Regions from separate parts of the Homo sapiens genome. Here regions 2 and 3 are each linked to region 1. Evidence: fine-mapped expression QTL. A gene starts in region 1. Each other region holds a variant in brackets. All regions are shown on one strand. Distances are from middle to middle.

What was found. PIP is the estimated chance that this variant, and not a neighbour inherited with it, causes the effect.
Region 2: its variant is fine-mapped to the expression of CALHM6 in whole blood (INTERVAL, PIP above 0.99).
Region 3: its variant is fine-mapped to the expression of CALHM6 in whole blood (TOPMed, PIP 0.99).

The regions. Positions count from the first base shown.
Region 1 is chr6:116,456,377-116,464,734 of GRCh38, reverse strand. CALHM6 (calcium homeostasis modulator family member 6) reads right to left here and starts at 3,360. Exons shown (of 3, transcript NM_001010919.3): 1 at 3,306-3,360; 2 at 2,281-2,863; 3 at 964-1,452. The coding sequence starts at 2,805. The coding sequence ends at 1,030. It overlaps CALHM6-AS1 (CALHM6 antisense RNA 1), which reads left to right and starts at 1,031. Exons shown (of 2, transcript NR_174951.1): 1 at 1,031-1,116; 2 at 3,541-4,257. It also overlaps the pseudogene KRT18P22. RefSeq lists a silencer at 2,295-2,374 and enhancers at 2,755-2,834, 2,845-2,954.
Region 2 is chr6:116,392,395-116,400,394 of GRCh38, reverse strand. DSE (dermatan sulfate epimerase) reads right to left here. Exons shown (of 6, transcript NM_013352.4): 2 at 729-1,197. The coding sequence starts at 1,144. Among named protein-coding and RNA genes, the nearest start is that of DSE, 25 kb to the right of the region's middle. RefSeq lists enhancers at 443-943, 944-1,444. The variant T/GT (reference allele first, on the strand shown) is at 3,043.
Region 3 is chr6:116,417,556-116,425,555 of GRCh38, reverse strand. All of the region lies in intron 2 of DSE (dermatan sulfate epimerase), which reads right to left. Among named protein-coding and RNA genes, the nearest start is that of CALHM6, 40 kb to the left of the region's middle. The variant G/A (reference allele first, on the strand shown) is at 3,364.

The DNA.
Region 1 (8,358 bases):
CAGTCGCCTTTCAGGTTTCCAACTCTGCTAACATCTTTTTCTCCCTAGTCTTTGCACATACTGTTCCTTCAGTAGGACTGAAATGCTCCTTCTTGCTACCCTACAGGATTCAGTTTTCAAAAAGTTTCCTCAAATCCCTTCTCCCCTAATCTAAATCAGGTCACAATTTGCATTTCTTTGTATGGTATTGGTTTTATCTGTATGACTGAAATGCTCCTTCTTGCTACCCTACAGGATTCAGTTTTTAAAAAGCTTCCCCAAATCCCTTCTCCCCTAATCTAAATCAGGTCACAATTTGCATTTATTTGTTTGGTATTGGTTTTATCTGACTTCCCAACTCTGTTGAAGCTGTGTAACAACTACTTGGAGGCTCATAAAACTATCCTCTCTACTTTTGTGTTTAGTTTATATTTACCATAACATATAAGCTTTAACACTTTTCCTCTGATCCTATAAACTAAAAACAACACTTGTTGCCTGCAATTCTCTTAACTACTTTTTCAAATTTCGTATTTTACAAAGTTTATTTTCCTTTTCATGATTAATTTATTATTGTAACCCTATTAGAGTCATAAAATGCTCTAATTTTTGAATGACCACAGCAGGCTCGACTAGAAGCCCAATGTGCCATCAATTGTGCTATAGAACCAGCTAGAATGCCGTAATTTTAAAGTTCCTAACAAGATGTTGTGGGCAAGAAAATGAACTTGAAATTAACATCAGATAACCTAACAGAAATGTCTGAAGTTCAATTGTTCTGCCACTGTTTTTGCTCCAAAAGTCTTTTATTTGAAAAGGACTCTAGAACAAGGATATAAGACTTCTTTTAGTTCTAGCTTTTACTTTGGATGAATCACTTTCTTTTTTTGTTTGTTTTAAATAATATTATAAAGAGGTTAAGCTCTATATTTTAATTTCAGATATAAAATTCCACAATTTGGAAGAAAAAAAGCACTCAAAAAATACCAATGTTTATTTTTTAATAAAGCAATAATTCAAAACAATTTTTTTTTCTACTCATTCAAAAGGTCATAACTCAGGAGTGCTGTTTATACCAGATGAATCTACAAAGCCAAGAACAGGAATCACCGTATCTCCTTCAGTAGACCTGATACTGTGAGTCTTCTCTTTTCTGTTGACATATTTGTGCAACATGCTGTAGTACTGGCCCTTCGGATTGAAAGTATACAGTGATGAAATTTGCTGCCACTCTTTCATGCTTGGAGTGTTATATTCTTTTGGATGCGAGCCCTCAAAGAAACATTTAATATTCTCTTTTGCCAATTCAGTTGCATGCTCTGTGGCTTTACTTTTAAGGATCTGCTGCTCCTGTTCCAAATAGATTTTCCAGAATTTCAGCTGCAGAAAACTAACTGGAGATAGGCATCGGGTGACAGATGTAAAAATCAGAAGAATGATGATAACAACTGCTATCAAGATCCAGCCCAACACCTTAAGAAAACACAACAAAATAGTAATTTAGTTACTTGGTTTTTTACAAGAAATTTAAAAATCCTCAGATAAAGTTTCAACTACTCGCCAGTTATGATGATGAACAAGCAACAGTTTTAGGTCTTAATTCCTTAAGAGTAAGGTGTCGCAGTAACCTCCCTAGCCCCCCAGTACAACTTCTCGTTTGGAAAGTCAACTGTAGTCCAAGTTATGCACTATGATTCTGCCCAGGGAGGAGCCCATACCATTCCCTTAGAACTCAAAATGTGGAATTTCTGCAAATCCTGGGAAAGAAGTGTTCATTTTAAAGAACCTCTGAGCTTTCTAAGTCCAGTGGTGGCTTTAGAGCCAGACAAACCCATTTTATTCTATAGACCCCTTTAATTCTAACAATTCTGCTTTCTATTGGCTGGGCAAACAACTTTACTTAGACTCAGTGAAGTCACTATATAGGGGAGATACGAAACTATTACTTGTAATGGCAAAACCGCAATTTTGCACCCAACAGAGCTGTTGTGAGACGTAAAAATAATGCAGGAGGTCAAGGGCCTAGCGCAGTATCTGGCACTGAGTAGGCGTGCCCACTCTCACTCCCACTTTCCACGATTCATGTACAGTGCCAGATACTACGGGAATGCGTTTTTCTCCTTTTCATTCGTTTTATTCAGATATTCTCTTGACGGCAAATTAGATGCAAGGAGCCATTCTAGATTTTCTTAGGGTACTGTATATCTGGAGAAAAGTCACCGATTTTTCCCTCACCCCAGCGGCCCTGAGAAAGCTCGGCCTCTCGGCTCCTCCCAAACGCCCCCAGCGCCAGCGGCAGACCTGCGACTGAGCCTTCAGATCCTTCAGGAGGTCCTGCACGTCCGACGCCTTGGCCTGGTTGCACGGCACCAGCGGCAGCTCCGCGGCGCAGCTGCGGTTGCGGCCGAGGCACAGGCGCTGCGCGAAGGCCGCGCTCCCGGTGGCCGCGCACTCGTAAAAGGCGCCCCCGAGCAGCGCCACGGCCACCCAGGTGAGGGGCGCGAGCGCGGCGGCCGCGCTGATTTGCGTGCACACCAGGGAGCCGCGCAGCGCCGATCCGCAACTCGCGCGGGCGCTGGAGCAGCATCCGGTGAGCAGGCGCCACGTGCGTGCGCTCAGCACGTAGCCCAGGAGGAAGAGCGCGAGCGCCGGCACCAGCAAGAAGACCAGGCCGTAGGGCAGGTTCCAGGCGGCGCTGCACGGGCACTGGAATGCCACGGCGGAGAAGATGCGCTCCCCGCCCGCCGTCAGCAGGGTCACCAGGCCGTAGCCCAAGGCGCTGTGGTGCTTGACGTGCAGGTCCAGCACCGCCCGAAACTTCTCCATGAGCCTCGTCCCCCGGGGCGTCGCGCACAGGCCCAGATCCTTCTGCCTCTTCGTTGTCCTGCTTGTCAAATGGTTTTGGTGGGATGGGGACCGGGGCTTTCCACTCTGCGAGAAGCAGCCTTTTTTTTTTTTTTTTTAAAGGGAAGAGGGCTTCTCAGACCTTCCTAAAGTTTCACTTTCTCATTTCAGCCACACCACCTCTGGTTAACAGAACCAGGCAAGCAAACACCCCCAGGACCTTGACTTCTCTGGCACCCACCCCATTCCAAAGGCAGAGGCACCAGTTATCTTCCTCCCCCAATTCAGGAACTCTGACAGAAGGTTGACCTTGTTCCTTTATTACCACCAATCTGACAACGAACCAGGAAACTAACCTTCTTGACCCACGGCCGCCAGTTGGAAAAACTGGGAAATACCAGATTTTCCTCTATTGCAGCCACCCTAGTTACTAAGCCAGATCACAGTAAAACCAAATAATTATCAAAAAACTGATTACTTACGGGAAACATTATTCAAGGACAAATTTCTGGTTCCTCTTCCATAAGCTAAATCAGCAAAGTCCAGCTCAAGTTCTGGTACTTCTATGATGGGCGGCACCCTTTCCATCTCCCTACCGGACAGAGCCACCAGCCTAGTTCACACTGACTCTTCTCTCCTCTGCCTGATCTCCTTCAGGACATTAGACCAAATATACTGTATTGATTTACTCGTCAATACAATGTTCTTTTCTTTCAGATATGTCATAACACTGTCAATGCCTGGAGGAGAGTAAAATTCTGACTCTGACCACCAAGCTGATCTGCACAGAAGGGGATACATGATTATTCAAAGAATGCTAGTTGAACCCAAAATTTCAAACTGCAGCTACATCTATCTAATGTTGTTTCCTCCACCTTCAGTTTTCTCAAGCAGCGTTGTTCTGACACAAACACTGTAACCACTTTTGTGATATTGAGCCTTACTCTGTGTGACTCCAGACTGAGCTGAGGTGTGCTTGAAAGAACATGGGCTTTGAAGTCAAGTGCATCTTGTCTGTGGTGTGTTTAACAAGTATGCCCCTCTGAGACACAGCATCCTTATTTGTAAAAGAAGGATAATAGTGCCCACTTTTCAAGATTACTGACATGAGTAGATTGAGTAGCATATGTAAAGTGCCTTTACATATAGGATATGTCTGTTAAATGAATGATCAGTGTGAGAGTTTTCCCCTTAAAATGCAATTTGGGGAATAGACAACAAATAATTACATTGTACATAACCTAAGAATCTTGATGAATACTGAATTTTGAATTTTAAACGAGGATCAATTCAGTGGATAGTATTAAGTGACTCAATGACTCTGCTACCTTAAGAGAATTGGTGTACACCTTAGCTGTCTGCTTCACCACAAGGAGAGTATCTGGATATGGAGCTTGGGTGGGCAGTTCACAATGAAATGGTTCTTATTGGTGCCCATCCACCAGGCTTGCCTTATTTTATCTGGAAAGAATAGGTAGCCCATGGAACCAAGTGAATTTTTAGAGAATGGACAAGAAATGTATTATTCTTTTCTTAGTCCAACTTGCCTTCTTAACTACTCCCTCTCCAACACCACCAGCAGGGTGCCTAGCGTAGTGCCAAAAGCTGTCATTCCATAGTGATGTGGTAAATAGACATCTTTTTTCTATGTGTTTAGGGGCCAGCCCCAGATGAGGGTCTTCATGGTCATGCAGGAAAGTTGGGGCCCTCTTCTCTGAGATTAGACCAGATACTGCTAGGCTTCCTGTCAACTTGCAGCAAAGTTGCGTGTTTGAAGCGAATCACTTCTGCTCTGACTGTTATCTTTGTAATTTGTCATCTCCCAAGATAAATTTCTTCCCCTGTGCCTTGAGTAACTCTCCTCTTACTGCTGGACTCTTCTTCACCTCTACCATAATACTCTAAGATGTGTCCTCTCTCGTCCACCCTTTCCCATATTCCATCATGCAGAAACATCACTATATCCACAACCTTTGTGCAGATGGCTTTATCCAAATCTCCCCTAACCGAAACCTAATAAAAATGCATCCTTCTGTCTTCTTGAGTGAGATTAATTTATTCTCCCACATCTCTCAAACCAAGAGGGATGGCTGGCATTTTCCTGGTTACCTGCTGATAGCCATACCAGGGTTTTACCACTGTGCTATAATAGTTTATCATCCACTGAGGCTCAATCTAATCAGCACCATCTCCTCCTTCACCTCATTCCTATGGTCTGTTTTCATTCCCTTCATTTTTTAAGACTCTAATGAAGTCCATCACCTTCTCTTCCCTGGCTTCTGTTATTTAGTCAAGGATTTGTTTGAAATATGTTTACTTACAGAAACTTTTATCTATCAGCCCCCTTCCCCAACTAGATTAATTCATTTGTTAACCAGTTATTAATTAGTTCATTTGTTCATTCAGTCATTCATTTAAATGTTTAATAAGTACTCAGAATATGTCAAGTACCTATCAAAAGTGCCTGGTATTGCTGGATACAACAAGGAAGAAGACACAGGTATCCTGCCGTCTTTGAACTTACAGTAGAGATGATATAGGAAATGGAGAGGAGGGGTCCTAAAGATTACGCACAGGATAAATTGGAGTTAGAGAGTGTCCTGAAAGAGCCTCTGTGAGAAACTGACATTTAATCTGAATGAGTCTGGAGTACAAAGGAGCTTGGTTAGAAAGAAGGCTAGAGTGATGGGAGCATTGAGAATGACAGGCAAGTTGGCACATCATGAGGCCAAAGCTGCAAGTGGAAGGTCAGGTTTAGGTGCTTCACAGACCAGAATATGTAGTCTGCAATTCTGCCTCTGAAACTTTCACAGACTGAGCTGCATCCTGACATATTGTCTTGTCAGCTTGTGTCTCTAAACACCACCTCCTGGGTTTGCTACTTCTGTGCTCTCCCAAACCCAACTCTCCCAGATGCAATGATCATTCAGAACTTAGTACAGGTTTCTATAATTGAGAGTCCAGGTTTTGCCTGCCAGCCTGAATGTTTCCCCAGCACTTGGTCTTGAGTCTAGTACCCTGCCATCCACTCCCACCACCACTGGATTGACTGGTTCTAGCTCTGGGTCTATTGAAGATTCCCAGCCCTCCATACCCAGGTCTGTTCTGAGAGGATATTGCTCAGAAGTTCAGCCCTTAGTGGAAATTGACTAACACCCTAATGGTGTGGAGAGGTAGACTAAATAATATTTTAAATGTCTTTACACTTTTGAAAGCCTGTGATTTGCTTCAGCTGTTAAGAAATGAGTAGTAGAATGTCATCGGTAAAGCCTGAGTCCTGTCCTCTTGCTCTCCTCCCTGGACAGTATGAGCTTCACCACTTGCTCCACCTTCTCCACCAACTACCATTCCCTGGGCTCTGTCCAGACACCCAGCTTCATCGCCCAGCTGGTCAGCAGTGCAGCCAGTGTCTATGCAGGCACCCAGGACTCTGGTTCCCGGATCTCTGTGTCCCGCTCCACCAGCTTCTGGGGCGGCATGGGATCCGGGGGCCTGGCTGCAGGGATGGCCAGGGGTCTGGCAGGGATAGCAGGCATCCAGAATGAGAAGGAGACCATGCAAAGCCTGAACGACTGTCTGGCCTCCTACCTGGACAGAGTGAGGAGCCTGGAGACCGAGAACTGGAAGCTGGAGAGCAAAATCCGGGAGCACCTGGGGAAGAAGGGACCCCAGGCCAGAGACTGGAGCCATTACTTCATGACCATCAGGACCTGAGGGCTCAGATCTTCACAAATACTGTGGACAATGCCCGCATCGTTCTGCAAATCAATGCCTGTTTTGCTGCTGATGACTTCAGTGTCAAGTATGAGACAGAGCTGCCCATGTGCCAGTCTGTGGAGAGCGACATCCATGGGGTCCACAAGGTCATTGATGACACCAATGTCACTCGGCTGCAGCTGGAGACAGAGATCGAGGCTCTCAAAAAGCAGCTGCTCTTCATGAAGAACCATGAAGAGGAAGTAAAGGCCTACAAGCCCAGACTGCCAGCTCTGGGCTGACCGTGGAGGTAGATGCCCCCAAATCTCAGGACCTTGCCAAGATCATGGAAGACATCTGGGCCCAATATGACGAGCTGGCTCGGAAGAACTAAGAGGAGCTGGACAAGTACTGGTCTCAGCAGATTGAGGTGAGCACCACAGTGGCCACCACTCAGTCCACCGAGGTTGGAGCTGCTGAGATGACGCTCACAGAGCTGAGATGTACAATCCATTCCTTGGAGATCGACCTGGACTCCATGAGAAATCTGAAGGCCGCTTGGAAAGCAGCCTGAGGGAGGTGGAGGCCTGCTATGCCCTGCAGATGGAACAGCTCAATGGGATCCTGCTGCACCTGGAGTCAGAGCTGGCACAGACCCAGGCAGAGGGACAGCACTAGGCCCAGCAGTACGAGGCCCTGCTGGACATCAAAGTCAAGCTGGAGACTCAGATTGCCACCTACCAATGCCTGCTGGAAGATGGCGAGGACTTCAATCTTGGTGATGCCCTGGACAACAGCAACTCCATGCAAACCATCCAAAAGACACCACCCGCCCAATAGTGGATGGCGAAGTGGTGTCTGAGACCAATGACACCAAAGTTCTGAGACATTAAGCCAGCAGAAGTAGGGGACCCTTCGAGGAGCAGGAGGCCAATAAAAAGTTCAGAGGTCAAAAATAAAAAATAAAAAGAAATGAGTAGTAGAGTCTCACATTAAGCACAGTGTAAAGCCAATGGTTATGGGTTCCCTTTGGTTTCCTTTAACTGTAGTACTTTTTCAGCACTATCATTTTCAATGTCAGGAATGGGTTTCAGAAACCACAGAACATTTCTTGGAAAAGGAACTTCTTGAAAGGAAATGCACATACACACTGTGAATCTGAAAGTGTCTTGCAATTGTCTTCATGTGTGCTAGTTCTCAAACATTGTTCTCTGCGGCTCTCATAAGAATACAGACTAATGGCATGACCCTGCTTGGAATATGACTGCTGGATTCTTATACAACATTAATCTTGGCCCCAAGACCCTCCAAAAAGAGTAAAATCAAATTAATATTCAAATATCTTAGGTAACATATGCAAGAAGAAATGCCAGATGCCAAATTAAAAAGTTAGTTTACAAAATCTGACACTCCTAGTCTTAAAGGGAATATCTTTCTGAATGTTAAAATTTGTGGATATATTGCTCATGTTAGATAACATATTTGAAAATCTGGAACATGCTGTTGTCTTCAGATATTTTAAACGTTTATAAAAGTTTTTTCCAATGGAAGTGTAAAGCAGAAGGAGGGAAAGATCAGACCCTTTCCTTGGCACAGAGATGTCATTTGTTAAATGGCAATCCCATGACATTTCAAAAAAGCCTTTTAAAGATTTTTATTCCTCTCTTAGTGTGAATTTCCTAAGCCTATCACAAAAGTTTAAGTACTTATTGATTAACACACTAATTTTTGTTCTTGCAGCAGATAGTTATTTTAACTCTGTTAAAAGAAAAAACATAGCCAAATTAAATCTAACAGAGTTTAATTGAGCAAAGAATGATTCATGAATCTGGTAGCCTC
Region 2 (8,000 bases), 64 kb after region 1:
ATAAATGTGTATTTAAAAATTGCATGAGTAAAAACATCTGTAGAATCCCTTGTTTAATCAACTCATCCCATATCTGTTTGGAAGCATATGAAGCATTAATTATAAATTAATCAAATAAATTTAAGCTAATCGAAAAGACAGGAATTTGTTCTCAAATCTTAAACTTCGAAACTAAATTATTATGTAGTTAGAATTCCTCACACAATTACACAATAATGTTGGTTTTCCTACAGGTCTCAGAAATCTGCTGGTTATTGGAGGGGATGTGTTTATAAATTGCCAGTCAGTCCCATCCCATTCACATTTAGTTCCTTACGATCATAAAATGCAAGTAAGTCTTAATTACTTGAAATGTCTTGCTGCAAAATGTTTTAACTACTTGGGATCAATCAAACCTAACACCAGATGATAGTAATATATACATGCTGAATATGGAAGAAAGAATTCTCAGCAATCACGATGATACTCTTTACTCAATTCAGCAAATTATTTTTTCTTTAGATTAGGCTGCATCTAAATATTTTCCTTCTAACTTTAAACATGGAAGTTACTACATCTTTTGAAACTAAGGGCCATTCATAAGACTGGCAACACAAATAACAAATAACACCTCCCCCCACACACATACACAAAGAGGTACATGAAGATCTGGCCACTGAGATGTCATATGGATTTGTTTCTTTCTAATGCAGAGTTACCACAGTAAGAAGAACAAGACAAAAATCTACCAACTAGGCTGCGCTGCCATCCTCTCCATGTAGTCTTTGGCCATGTCTCGGGCTTCAATGTTCTCAGGATACAGCACACAGAACATTGCCAAGGCACCCAAGTTGTTTCCAAAAATTTCATTCCAGCGGGCACTGTAGTCCTTGGGATCCCAGGGAGGGAGGTATTCCAAGGGGCTGGACAGCATCGTGTGCACAGCCTCCGTGAGGCGGGCTGCAATGTGCTCGTGCGAGCTGGCAGCCCTGAGCTGCAGCTCCGCCACTTCTGCCCTGGAGAAGTACAGCATGGGATGGCTGTCGTAGTTGGCATTGGTGAAGGGAATCATAACTTCTGGGTTCTCGTCGGTGATGTAGGCTGACACAAAGCAAAGCAAATATATGAAAAACACACTGGGAGCCCCCCGTGTGTGAGTCCTCATCGTGGCATCAGATCTCCAAATCTCCAAGGCAGCCAAACCATCTTCGAAAGATCCTACGTGAGATAAAAAGGAAAAAAAGTGTCTGTCAGCCAAGGGAACATGGCACAGGTGTGGAAACATATAAGAGGTAGAAACCATATGTGAAAATAAAGCTTATGAATTTAGATTTTTAAAAATACAACAAAAAAATTTAATTAGGAAGAAAATTACTAAAGTTCTGATTTTATAGAGTTAAACATACTACATCAGAATTGTATTCATTATGGAAAACAGAATTTTGGACTAAGGGAAAATGTATAATATTTGTTCAAGTAAGGAAAAAATTATTCTTGGTATTCTTCTCACATAGTATCATGCAAAAAACATCACATGGTATATTTTTTTAGACATTAATACATAAACCACAATAACCAAAAGCTGGTAATGAACAATCATCTGGGAATCTGAGTAGACATTACAAAAAACCAGAAAATCCTGTATTTCTTACTACAGCCTCTTTCACTGTAACTTATCTCCTTTTCCTAACATTTCTGAACCAGGGATTAGGATCAATACATCTGTAAGCAGACAAAATATTATGAATAAGGTTAAATATCCTCTTTATGTGAGCAGAAGGTGGAAAGAGAGAAGACAAAGGCCATGTAAACATCTGCCAAGCCCGTGTATTTCCTGGGCTGACATCAGCAAGCATGTAGTGAAGACCAAACACAGTGCCACTGGGACCAGAAACTGACATGCCTTCATTCAGAGAATAAAATCCCAGAATTAAAAGGCTGAAATAACACGGGTGCATTTTCCCCTTATTATCTGAAACTACTGTCTACTTTTTCATTTGGCATATGGGATTTTGGTGTCATTCAGTAAGTGAGAAATGTAAACAAAGTTCACATATTTTCTTAACTACTTGATTTTTCTTCAAAGCCCCTTTTTTCAGTGGCAGATTTGTGCACTGGTTAAAAGAACATCTTTCAAATGTAGAAACACTAAAAAAAATAAAATAAAATCCCCAAAACCTCAGCCTAGTCAATGTCCCACATCTGGGATAAAGCAGGCAGAAAATCCCTCAGAGGAAAGTCAGGGAATTCTTAAAATTCTTAAGAGGGGAAAGGTTATAGAAAGCAGACCAGAAAAAGACAGTTTTATGTAAATAACGAACAGTGGTTTTCAATTATTAAAGGGAGAAACTGATGGTGGAAAATCAACCTCCCAAGCTGAACACAAACTGTTTTTCCAAGGAAAAACTGCCTCATCATATTTAGAAGAAGAAAAACTAATAATTTAACAGATATGGCAGATCAATCCACATTTTCAACTTGCTGTGTGTGTTTCCAAGAAAAAGGCAATGAGACATCATTTGAGGGTGCTACCTTATTCTGGAGTTTTTTATATTTCTACCTATATATGAAACTCGATGGCAGTGGTTTTGGTTTTGTAAAACATTTTACATTTATTTCAACAGCAGAACTTCTGATGAATAAAAAATTAATATAGCCATACTAAATAAAACATATGAAATAGAAATAACTCTTGGACTCTGCCAGTATTATGTCTAGCACCCAAAGTCTCAAGGCAGCTGGCAGGCTGGATCCTTCAAGGTCAGAGACCCAGCCAAAAGAAATAGTCTTCTGTGGTTATGCCTGAGGAGGGGTGTGGTCTCTGGCAGCACACAGAAATGGCTGGGTCTGAGGTAATGCTCAGTCCCCCCAGGGGCTTATTCCTTGCTCCATTTAGAGAACAATATACCGGCCAGGCACGGTGGCTCATGCCTGTAATCCCAGGACTTTGGGAGGCGGAGGCGGGCGGGCCCCTTGAGGTCAGGAGTTGAAGACCATCCTGGCCAAAATGGCGAAACCCCATCTCTACTAAAAATACAAAAATTAGCCAGGTGTGGTGGGGGG[T/GT]GCCTGTATTCCCATCTACTCGGGAGGTTGAGGCAGGAATCGCTTGAACCTGGGAGGCGGAGGTTGCAGTGAGCCAAGATCCACCACTGCACTCCAGGCTGGGTGACAGAGAGAAACTCTATCTCAAAAAAAAAAAAAAAAAAAAGAAAGAAAGAGAATAATATACCGCTAACGATTAAAAAAAAATCCTGTATATATTAAGTCCCTAAAAGTCTAAGTCTGAATGCTCTCATCAATGCAATCAGCATTGTGGGGGTTTTAGACACTTTCTCCTTTAACTGAACCCCCATACACACACCCAACGTACATGCAGTGAAAGATCCCTCAACTACCAGCTTTTGAATGTGTGGGAGCTCAGGTGGATAGGGGAGTGGCTCCAGCTATGAGCATATGGGTAAGAAGGCATTAATACATGGAAACTAGAATTTTTCCATCTCACATTCTGTACAAACTTCCCCAAACGTGGGTAAGGTTAATTCATCATGTTCTTTGTCCTCCCCTATGCAACCACACTCCCACCCAGGCACAGAATCACTGTATATTCAGGACTGCTCCGAAGAGTCCCTCACACTGTGGGGCCTACATGCCTAACTCAGCAAAACTCACAATGTGACCCCTGCCACTTCTGCCACATTGCTTCCAGTTACGTAGGATATGTCTGAATATATTTAAACCAGAAAAGCTGATCCTGAAGCATAGAACCTCATTAAGATGTTGTTTTGGGAAGGATGCCATCTCAACATGCCAACTGTTATTGAAGGTTCTCTAGCTATTACTTTGAATTCGTGCAAGGGAGTCAGAGCAGCAAGGTTGTGCATTACTGTACATTTAAAATATTAATTTCCGTCAGAACACCACGTTAGCCAATGCAGAACCCATAGAGATTCTGCAGAACAATCATCTATGAAGACTGAGGAGAAAGAACCGTGGCATTCTCAATACCACAAATGGTGTACTACCTTCCCCATGCCCCACTCAGTGTGCTCAGCCCCCAGTGCTCTCCCAGCTATTAAGGCTTTTGTTGATTCACCCAAAGAGTTGATCTCTCTTGTATCTGGCACATACCTATATCACACCGGACTGTTTCGGTTGTTTACATGCAATGCCTCACAGAAGGTGAGAACCTTCTTCCTCTATGTATCATGGAGCTTAGCACTGAATCTGGCTTTTAAAAGGCAGCATGCTGGCTGTGCTGAACCAAATCCCTGGGCTTAGCTGTTGGTAGAGCAGACCTCATCAATAAAATAAGCATGGAGAAACTTTGTTCCCCCTTATTTGAAGCCAAGGAAAGTGTGGAACTTTCCAGAAAAAAAGTCCCTCTAGGAAACTAATGGGAGAAAACACGTATGAAGCCTAGAAACTTATGTAGCCTAAAAACTATCCACTAGTTTAAAAAGAAAAGAAATTAAATCTAACTAAAATCTAAACCAAACTTGTTTTAGGCTGATAACCTAAAAGAGGAAGTAATACCCACCCATCATTTTAAATCTGTCTAGAAAATTTCACTGAAAAATCTCTATTTCCAGTCATTGAGTTTTCTCTTTGACCTTCCACTCTAGACATTGTGTGTGCTCATTGTACAAAGAGAAGAGCCAAAATTAAATGAAAAGAGTGTTTCAAGATAATTTTAGGTGGACCAAAAATGGACAGGCTTTACGTTAATTTTACGTACTTATTTTAATGTGCATTATGAAAAACTATACCACATCAAACCTGAGATTTCTACAGATATGCAAAACTCCTGTTTAAAATATATTTAAATTTAAAAGTAAAAAAAAAGTAAATGGATATGGCAAAAATTGTTGAAGGTGGTACCTGAATAACTATAGTTTGAGAGATGCCAAAAATGCTTACCGAAACAAAGGGCATTAAAAGCTAATGAGTTTATGGGAATGGTCAGCCCCAACCCTCCCACTTTCTTTATTTTTTAGACGGAGTCTCGCTCTGTCGCCCAGGCTGGAGTGCAGTGGCCCGATCTCGGCTCACTGCAAGCTCTGCCTCCTGGGTTCACGCCATTCTCCTGCCTCAGCCTCCCCAGTAGCTGGGACTACAGGCACCCACCACCATGCCCAGCTAATATTTTGTATTTTTAGTAGAGATGGGGTTTCACCCTGTTAGCCAGGATGGTCTCGCTCTCTTGACCTCGTGATCCACCCGCCTCGGCCTCCCAAAGTGCTGGGATTACAGGCGTGCGCCACCGCGCCCAGCCAACCCTCCCACTTTCAACACTATGAAACAAACACAAACACACACACTATCTCAAAATGTGCCTTCTGTCCTGGAGAAATAAGTCTGAACTTCAAGATGTTTGTGCATGATCTCTCAAGCTATTCACCCCCTACTTCATTGTGTTTCAAAAACAGCAGAGCACTCCCAGGCCCTTTAAATCTTTAAGTTGCACTTCGCCCAGTTCAAGAGCATAGCATTTTCAACATGGCAAAATTACCAGCGACTCTCAGCAGCTGATGCTACTAATAAGTACTTTATCTACAACTCAATTCTCAGGCTGTTTCTGAATGATTCCATTGAGCATCATGTCCCCTGAAATTCTCTTTTTCCTCTTTTAACTCTACAACTTTCATGATCCACTTTTTCTTCCCATTCATTTGTCTTATGTCACACAACTTGGATAGTAAAACATTCTTAAATCTATGAGGTAGGAGGATCAGTTGAGGTCAGGAGTTTGAGACCAGCCTGGTCAACATAGTGAGACTCCATATCCACAAAAATAAAATAAAATAATAAAAAAATTAGCCAGATGTGGTGGCATGTGCCTGTAGTTCCAGCTACTCGGGAGGCTGAGGCAGGAGGATTGCTTGAGCTCAGGAGTTCGACGCTGCAGTGAGCTATAATTGTGCCACTGCACTCTAGCCTGGGTGACACAGTGAGACCTTGTCTTTAAAAAAAAAAAAAATCACGCTGTTACTGCTATAATTCAGATAGCAATTTGATCATCTCTCTGCCTGTATATATTCAGCAGTCCAAGTTTAGCATTACGTGTAGGCCAAGCCACGTGAATTATGAATTACAATTACCTTAAGCAGATCTTTATAAAGCAAAGATAGGCCCCAAATTATTTTGCTGTAATTCTGGTTCCAACAATCCACTGCAGCTATTATGATTCAGCAGTCACACAGAAAAACTTCGTTTCTGTGATCCTAAATGCTTTTCACATATTTGATCTTTTACTCTTCAATAACTTAATATAGCAAAATAGTATTATTTGTTCCACAATAAATTTCAGAGAAAGAACTAGAACTTGCACCTCCTAAATCCTAAGCCAAGATTCTTTCCTTTAACCAAACTAATTTGTGAGAATGTTCAATAACATTAAAAGTTCCATTTTTTTGCCATCCTTACACAAAGAAAGCACAGAAGAATATGCTGAGAAGAAAAAACTGAACACTAAACTAGTACATCAAGTTTCAAAAAAGATTTGGGTTTCAAATGATCTGGGACTGTTTATAGAATGAAACAAATGGTAGTACAAAAGTTCTTTCAATTCCACAGGCTTCAGAAAACAGAGAAAGTATAAGGATGGGAGAAAGAAATCACCCTGTAGAGAGTAAAACATGCCCCAAACTAAGATGGATTAAAAAACCCTCTTATAATATGTGCCAAATTTGAGGAACACAACATAATGATTAACAGTATGGGGCATGGAGTTGGGCAGACAAGAGCATAAATCTCAGCTCTGCTGCCTCCTAGCTTTGATCAACTGACGTCCACTCTCAAAACCTCCCTTCTGTCATCCACAAAATGAAATATGCTTCATGGGGTGATTAGACATGTGTGATGCACTTAGCATAGAACATGACATGAAGAGCTCAATAATATTTATAAAAAGGAAGATGTTTCAGACCTGCAAGATTATACTAACCTATTGATAAAATATTTTATTTGAAAGAAACTAAATCTTCATACTTTACAGGTAAAAATATAAGAACTATAGATGTTAACTGACTAGGGCCAGATCATACTGCTTATTAGAGACTTAGTTGAAATTGGAACACAATGCTTCTCACTCTTCAACACATCACTCATAGTAAGCTCATCACTCACTGGAAAGGAAAGTATACGACCCTTTAAATTTTTCAAGTGTTTGTTAGAGGTTTTGCCCCAAAGAAAAGAATAATAGATTAAATGAGCTATTAACTAAATTTTCTTCCTAGGGTCAGTAATTTAATTCTTCATATACAAAAGGCGACCACTTCTTTTTTCTCCTTTATTCTGTCAGGAGAAAGGCCTGCCGATCTAACAGCGACTGGGAAACACAGTCCCTGGCTGGAAAGCTGTTTCTTAGTAACACATTTATATTACGGAAGGAGTACATTAAAATTTAGGGGACACCTGCTGCCACTGCAAGGCGGATAGGTTAACCTCAGTACAGGGTCTGGTCCTGGCTCCATCACTGCCATCAGTATCTCAGCTGATCATCCTGGAGATGAGATGCTACTTAATGTTAGGCTTCCCTACCTCTCACATATGAAAAACCAGAATGTCAGCATATTCGTTTACCGTCAAGCAGATTGGGAAATATTTTCTGACTTCACAGGAAACCAACACAGGAAGTGAATTATTAGATAACTGTCTGGTGAACAAGTAAAGAATCAGAACAAAGGCAATGGGAAAGGCCCTGAACTTGGGGCAACTTGACCAGTTAAGATCGCTACCATAACTTCATTTGAAGGAGGCTGCTGAAATTGCCAGCAGCTGTCACAGATGTCCTTGGGGGTATCATTAAAGACAAAATTTTAAAAACTGAGTTGTAATCATATTTAGAAAACAAGAGTGAAATGTACATCCCCTATAGCTCCTGCCACCACACCCGCCAAGCTCAGCCTAAGAGCAGCTGCTCCAGTTTGCTCAACTTAATGGATGGGCCCCATAGTTAGTTACATGATTAGGAATAATCCCCCACACTAGAACCAGTGTGCCCATATCCATGGCAAGATTGA
Region 3 (8,000 bases), 39 kb after region 1:
TGTTTGACTAGCTATATTATTCTGCAAATTAGTGTGTGGCTTGCATTAAGCAGGAAGCAAACAAAGGATCTTTCACAATCAGAATTCTAAGGAATTAACCAGAAAACCCTTCCCATCTGTTCAGGATGTATTTGAGTAATCTCCAAGTGAGGGAAACAAATCAAAAGTGTGCTGTACCTGTGGGAGGTAGAAGAAAGCAATTAGGGATGAAGCTAAAGCTTAACATTTCTATGCCATGAACCTCTTTTGGCAATCTAGTGAAGCCTTGACCTCTTTCTCAAAATGTTTTAAAATTCGTAAGACATAATATGTAAGGATACATGGAAATCTATTATTTTGAAATATAATTATCAATACACATATTTAAAAAATAATAATACAGGCTTTTTTAAATTAAGGCATGAAATACCAACATTTAATAGCAGGGATAATAACTACTATAATTTGTAAGTGGTAATAAGCATAATTTTTGAGATGTCTATAACAACTGTAATGTGGTAATGAAAATATCTGTGATACCTACCTGTAACTTTGTTACAGATCCTCCCAATACCATCAAGATTGGTTATCTCTACTCATGATTGGAAGAAATGTTGGATTTCAGTTAAAGTTAGTAAAAGTTAAGATGTATTAGTTCTCTCAAACAAACCTCATAGACCTCAGTTTACAAATACTTTAAAATGTTCTGAGAGACTACCTCTTCCAGATTATGTTTTTCCTTTAGAAGTTTATGCTAAAGAAATGGCCTAGGTGAGGCCTTCCCTGGTCACCCTATCAGAATTTCATCATCCTCCCAAAATAATATTTAATTCCCCTTTTCTTTTTTCCCTTTAGTAAATATATGTATGAATATGTCTATGTATATGTTTCCCCTCCTAGAATTTAAGTTCTACAAGGGCAGGACTTTTTTCTTCACTATTGTATTCGCAATTGGATCCCCAATCATAGAACAGTGTGGCACACAGCAGATGCTCAATAAATATTTTCAGAAAGAAGGAAAAAGTGAAGGAACAAACCTGTAACTCACTGTCAGCCACACTGCTGGCAGTGATTATGTGATCATTATGGAATCAGGAATTTGGAGAGATCCCTTTATATTTAGTAATAATTTCAGCATTTGGTTACCATTCGGTGTTTGGTGCTAAAAAGACTAGTGCTAAAAAGATTGATGAGTTTCTTAGCAATTTAGTAACAGACAAAGCTCCCTTGCTCTAGCCAGTCAGCTTGCCAGTGTGTGTACTGTTTGTAAACAGACTATGAGAGTGTGAATGAATTCTCTACTTCTAGGAGAAAAACAATTCATACTGCACACTCATTGCCAGGGAGTTGGGAATATCATCTTCACTGACTCATGGTGACTGGTGGGCCAGGCAGGGAAGCCAGGTCATTTGTTTCCCAACTTGTGTCATTGTACCATGTCATGATGCATCTATAAATGGCACTATATACACCGACCCATGATAAAGCTGATGTCAATGAATTGCTACCAGCCAGTAAACCCTCACATGTGTGATTAACCAATAAGCTTATTTTTATAGATAACCAGAACATTTGATATAATTCTCATCCTTCATGAAATGTTATGCAAATTTCTGTGAAAATGTCCAAGCCCCAACCTGCAGTTTGTTTATTTCAAACAGTTTCCAATTCAATGTAACACTGGCGCCCCAAAAGAAAAAAGTTTATGGCACCTTCAGGTCTGTCCCTATATCATTAGAAAAGCTGACCTGTAATAGCTGTATTTCTAAAAAGTTATCTAAATCTTTCACCAACACGATCTTACCCAGCCTTAGATACAAAGTGAAATAATGGAAGAGACTATATTTTACAGTCATAAAAACCAATGGAAATTTGCTCTTAGTTCATGGATGGCAGCTGAGAAACTATCTTATTCAATGTGATCCTGACCAGTAATAAATCAGTTCACTGTGAATGGTGGTGAAGTGGGAAATTATTTTTTAAAAAAACAGACAGACATTAATTTATGAATTGTGCTTCAACTTAAAATATATCCATGTGTACACAGATTCACCAATCTTTTGAAGGTGAGCCAAAACCTATTCTCTGAATATGGGTCTACAGATGGAGTTTCATTGTTCTTTCCTGCAAAGAACACACATAACACATCACCACAATTTCCAGCTTTGTTTTCTTTATTATATAGGAAGAAATTAAAGATACCTGTGAGGGAACGCAGAAGCCTTCTAGATTTTTATGAGTTTTTCCCTAATCTTCTACAAATCTCAATCACACTATATCATGACAGCAATTTTTTACAGTAAGTTATTCCAAAGCTTTTAGGTTGGTTCTAGAAATATTAGCTTTTTCTTTTTGAACTCACACTTTATCTATTGGTATTATTAAAACTGTCTCATTACAGGTATTAGGGAAACTGTATTACCTGGTTTGAGAACAAATACAGCTGACACTTGCTCAGCCGGTAACTCTACTGGGGGGAAAAGAAATAAATGTAAAGTAAAGGGCAACCTACAAGTCCTGACATTCAGCTACTGTGTTACACAAGGAATGGAAGCTGGGTTCACTGGCAAGTTAGTTAAGAGGAGGTTAACTGAGGAAATATTTACACTATTCCTCTTTTGTAAACTACAGTTTCACCCCTTAGAGCAGCTGTTCTCAAAGTAAGGCCCAGGGAGGGGCTTCCGAGACTATTACATTTTAGAGAATTCACAAATAAGAATCATTTTCATAATAACGTAAAGATGTTATATGTTGATATTTGCACTGATGGTACAAAAGCAGTATTAAGTAAAACTGCTGTAACCTTAGCAAGAATCCAAGCAGGGGCACTAAACTGCCCTAGTAGTCCTTGTATGATTTTGCACTGCCATGCACTCAGGTTTTTGTTGTTGTTGTTGTTTAATTTTTAAAGCCAATTTTATTTAAAAATGTCCTTGATGAAGTGGTAAAAGTGATTAATCTTTATAAAATCTCAACTCTTTGAGTATACATCTTTCTAATATCCTATGTGATTAAACGGAGTACCAAAGTACAAGAACGTTACAAACAAAAGAAGTCATGCACTGAGTTGAGAGCTGAGCTAGCTCGGTTTTTTCATGAAACATTTTTACATGACAGAATGATCAACTGACAAATTATAGTTATCTCAATTTGGGTGTTAGCACAGAAATATTCTTGAAAATAAACAAGGAAGGCCTGCCAGTTCAAGGAAAGCTGAAAGCCTTTGTTGCCAATGACAAACTTGGAGCTTTCAACTGGAAATAAGAATTTTGGAAAATTTGCATCCACTACCAAGAGCTTAAGAGCTTACCAATACTTAAAGATTTTTCTGATGAAATCAGTAAGAACATCAACAAACATGATTTTTATATTGTATAATTAAAT[G/A]TGTCAACATTCGGTAGACTGAAATAACTCAGTGAACACACATGCAAAATAACAAAGGCATGATGTTATAAAACCATGCACCGATAAGACAGCCACTCCTAAGTGTAAAATATGCCAATGGATTTTAATGTAAAAGAGTATGAAGAGTTCATTAACATGGCTTCAGATTCTATACTGAAATTAATTTTTATGGAACCACTATCAGTCAAGTTTTAGTGTAGCGTCAAAGAAGAATATTCACAATTATTTGAAAAGATTATTAAAATACTCCTCCCTTGTCAATCACATATTCCTGTGAGGCTGGATTTTCTTCACATACTTCAACCAAAAAAACACATAGCAACAAATCAAGTGCAGAAGCAGACACATAAGATTTGCAAAGATGTAAAACAACACCTTCCTTCTATTTTTTGTTTTAAAAAAATATAGTTTGGCTGGGTACAGTGGCTTATGCCTGTAATCCTAGTGCTTTAGGAGGCCAAGGTAGGAGGATTGCCTGAGCCCAGGAGTTCCACATAGCAAAACTGTCTGTACACAAAATAATTTTTTAAAAATTAGCTGGGCCTGGTGGCATGCACCTGAAGTCCCAGCTTAGGAGGCTGAGGCAGCAAGATTGCTGGAGCCCAGAAGTTCAAAGCTGCAGTGAGCTATGACTGCACCACTGCACTCCAGGCTGGGTGACACAGTGAGACCCTGTACCTAAAAAAAAAAAAAAAAAAAAAAAAAAAATATATATATATATATATATATGTATATATAGTTATTTTTTCCTAAAATATGTTTATGTTAATATGAAATGAGCTTTGACAATATATAAATATGAGTAAATGAACAAATAAATGTTTCAAACTTCTCAGTTTTAATTTCTAATATGGTAAACTTTGATAGATACAGCCCAAATAAACAAAGCTGTTTGATGTCCTCATTAATTTTTAAGAGTACAAAGTGCTTCCAAGTCCAAAAAGTTTAAAAACTGATACTTTGAATATTTTCAAAGGTGAATTTATATGAAATAAATTAATCTGAACACAGGAAAGAGCTATTGATTTTCTGAGTGTAAGGGTGGAATGTTGGTGGGGAAAGGCATAGAGTTTGGTCATGATGTGCTGTGTCTATGAATTAAGTTGTGATTCTGAAAGGAAGAATGAGCCATAACTATTTTTCCAAAGTTGAGCAGTCTCATTAATCCAAATTTTTGTACCAATTTTAAAGGGATAGACTGCTTCTATTATCATAAATGCTTTTTAAAATATTATGTATGGAGTATAATAGTTGGCAATCGAAGAAGTCTGTATCACTAAAAAGGTGACAGTTTATTTGATTAAATAACCATTAAAAGGAACCCTAAAAACAATGTTGCTATCTATTTTTATTGGTATAGATTTGAACTGCAAGTGATTAAATGCTTCTATTTTTAAAATTTTCATATAGTTTTGATATAGACAGTCTATAGAAAATAACTGCCTGTGAAAAGATTAAAATTTAACATTGCAAGGTTCACAGAATATTATTTAAATTTGTATACTGTTGTCTTAGCCCAGGCTGCCATAACAAAATGCCATAGACTGGGTAGCTTAAACAACAGAAATTTATTTTTTACAAGTTCTGGAAGCTGAAGGTCTGACATCAGGGTGCCCGCATGGTCAGGTTTTGGTGAGAGCTCTGTTCCTGGCTTTTAGAAGGCCGCCGCCATCTTACTGTGTGCTCACCTGGCCTGTCCTAGATGTATGGTGTGGGGATAAGGCAAGCGTGAGAGAGAGTGCACAAGAGTACAAGCTCTCTGGCACCGCTTCTTATCAGGGCACTTATCCTATCATGAGAGCCCCACCTTTAGGACCTCCATCTAAATCTAATTCTCTCCTATAGGCCCTTTTCTCTAAATACTTCCACATAAGGGGTTAGGGCTTCAATATAAATTTTGAGGAGGGTCCCATTCAGTTCATAGCAACTGTCTATTTAATTTACACAAATACTGCTAAAATAAACACTTACAATAAAAAGAAATTAGGTCTTTGAAAACAAAGATGTGCCAAGAGATCACTCATACTTATTTAAATTAATCAACAGTATACAAGAAACAAATACTAGAAACAATAGAACTCATAATTCCCTTTATAATTAATCCTATTTCCTAGTACTTTTCAGAACCTAACAACTTTATAGCAGGCTTTTCCATATGTAGCTATGCTCCAAAGATCACAATTTGATCCACAGTATAGGCAAATCTACATATTTTTTAAAGTGTATTTAAATGAGACTTTATGATTTGTCAGACCTTTCCAACAAAGGAGGATAACTCCAATAAAATGATCCATCTTCTTTTTCTCATTTTCAGAATAACTATAGTTTTACCAACCTATAAAATATTTACTTCGTAAATTCATAAAGTAGAAGATTTGCGTTTAAAATCTGATTTTATACAGTAGATAGTTATGGAACTACAAATTTAAGTTAAAATGAAACAAGCTTTACAAAAATTATAAATTTACATTCAGAACACAACAGTGAACTCCTTAGAAATTGCAAACTCTAAAAGTACCAGGGTAGTGCACCACCAGCTTCCCATTTGCCAGCTTTGCTGCAGCTGTGTCTACTGTACATATGCCACACCTCTGTCCACGTGCACTTGGGCACACCATTAAAATAGGCCAGAATTAGGTCAACTCTATTTTAAAAATGTAAATTATTCTATTCATTCTAAAAGTCTCCTGAACACAGTAACTTGATAGAAAACCATTTAACTTTCAACCAAACACCTTTGTGTGTTTGGAAACAAACTCCAATAAGTTAAGACAGTCATGTATTACCACTCCTTTTAAAAACATGACTAATGCAGTAGTGATTCATCTTTTTTCCCTCCATTTTAAATGTGAAAACTAACCATGAATGTTAAATGTTAGTAATATGTTAAATTTGGTATGGAATTCCTATAAATGTAGCTAAAGGGAAGTGGATTTCTCACCTCTGAGGCCTCATCTGTAAAGCACATTGGGTCTTGGCAGACATCTGCCAAGAGGACCAGATTAAGCCTGAAAGATAGAGACTTGATCTAGGAGGCTCTGAGTGGGTAGTCAGCAGTCCAAGGGGAATGTTCAGCTAATCTCTGGCCTGGCTTGGCGTCCATATTCCAAGTGTTTGATCAGGTGGCTAAAGGTTAGCACTGGCATTGTGAAGCAAAATGCACAGGGAGGGAAAGGAGAGGGGAGTGTACTTCATATTAATTAAGCACATGTTATGTGCCCAAGCCTCTAAGTACATTGTGTCATTTCATCTTCTCAACTCAACATTAGGTATTCCGTCCCCATTTTATAGGTTGTGAAAAAGCAATTTGGATAGGAGATTACTTGTTCAGAGCCACACAGTTAAACAGTGAAGCTGAGAATGGAATCCAGAATTATCTGAATTATCTGAATCTAGAATGGTTTTGCCTTCTTAGTGAGGGGAAGAACGGCGCTTTCAAAGAATGTCACCAAGTTTGCAATAAGAACTGAGCCAGAACATGCCAGAGTCAGTGGCTCTACCAAAAGCTAGGCAGAAGGGTCCAAGGGTTCTAAGCCTTGCCATTTTCATGACAGCAAGACAGAGCAAGGCATGAGATCTGAGAAAAGGGGCACACATTAGAAGAAGAGATACTGCCATTCTGTGCTCATGTGGTTGCTCAGGGCCCACCCAAGGAACATGAGACACCAATCATGTAGATTTCCTGAACAACTCTTTCCCTCCCTGATGAGCCTGCACACCTAATGTACTACTCTAAGGTAGAGTTGGTCCAGGGGATGGTGGTTCTGGTTTGCATCTTCAGAACCTTGGGCCCCTTAAGGTAGTAACAAACACTCTCTTCGTGATCAAACCCTAGCCAGGCTCCTCTGTGCCTTCTTGGCTAGGCCTCAACCTCATTCCATGAAGAGTAAACACTAACAAGTTTCCAATACCTCAAGGTCATATCCCTGAGATGACCCTCTCCCTGTTGAAAGTGTCTGCCTAAGAAACTCAAGGCTTCCAGAAAAATTTTGTTTGTTCCTGTCAACATTTGAGGATAGGGTCTCTGTCTTTCAGTCTCTGTGGGAGGATAGAATTCTACCCTCGATAATTGCCACTTAGCAGATGTGTGATTAGCTGGCCTAATCACATGTACATTGACTACCCTTTGTAATTTTTCTCTTTCCTGGCTCTACTAAGCCCCTGCTTGCCCTCCTCCCTTTAAAATGCCTATTCACCTCTGTACAAATTGACGTTCAGTTCAGTTTATGCTGAACTCTTTTCCTACTGAAATACTTACTACTGATTAAAACTTATCCTTGCCACTTTAGTGTCCGGTATTGTTTACCTTTGACACTGGCCAGGGCTAGAGTACACAGAAATGGACAATGAGCTTTCCTTTTTCAATATCTACTTTGGGAACAAAACTACTTGCCCTTTCTGGAAACAATTGCTAGAAGGATGAACGGTATGACAGAATGGGAACTCATTGTATATTAAGACTTTTTCAGGGAAAATAACTTATTAGCTCTGAAATGTAAAAAACTATTTCCTCTTACAATCTATATTTCTATATTAATTAAATCACTGGATTTAATATAGCAGTACATTACCACTTAATTTCATTTTAATGCTGTGAATTCAATATCCCAAATATT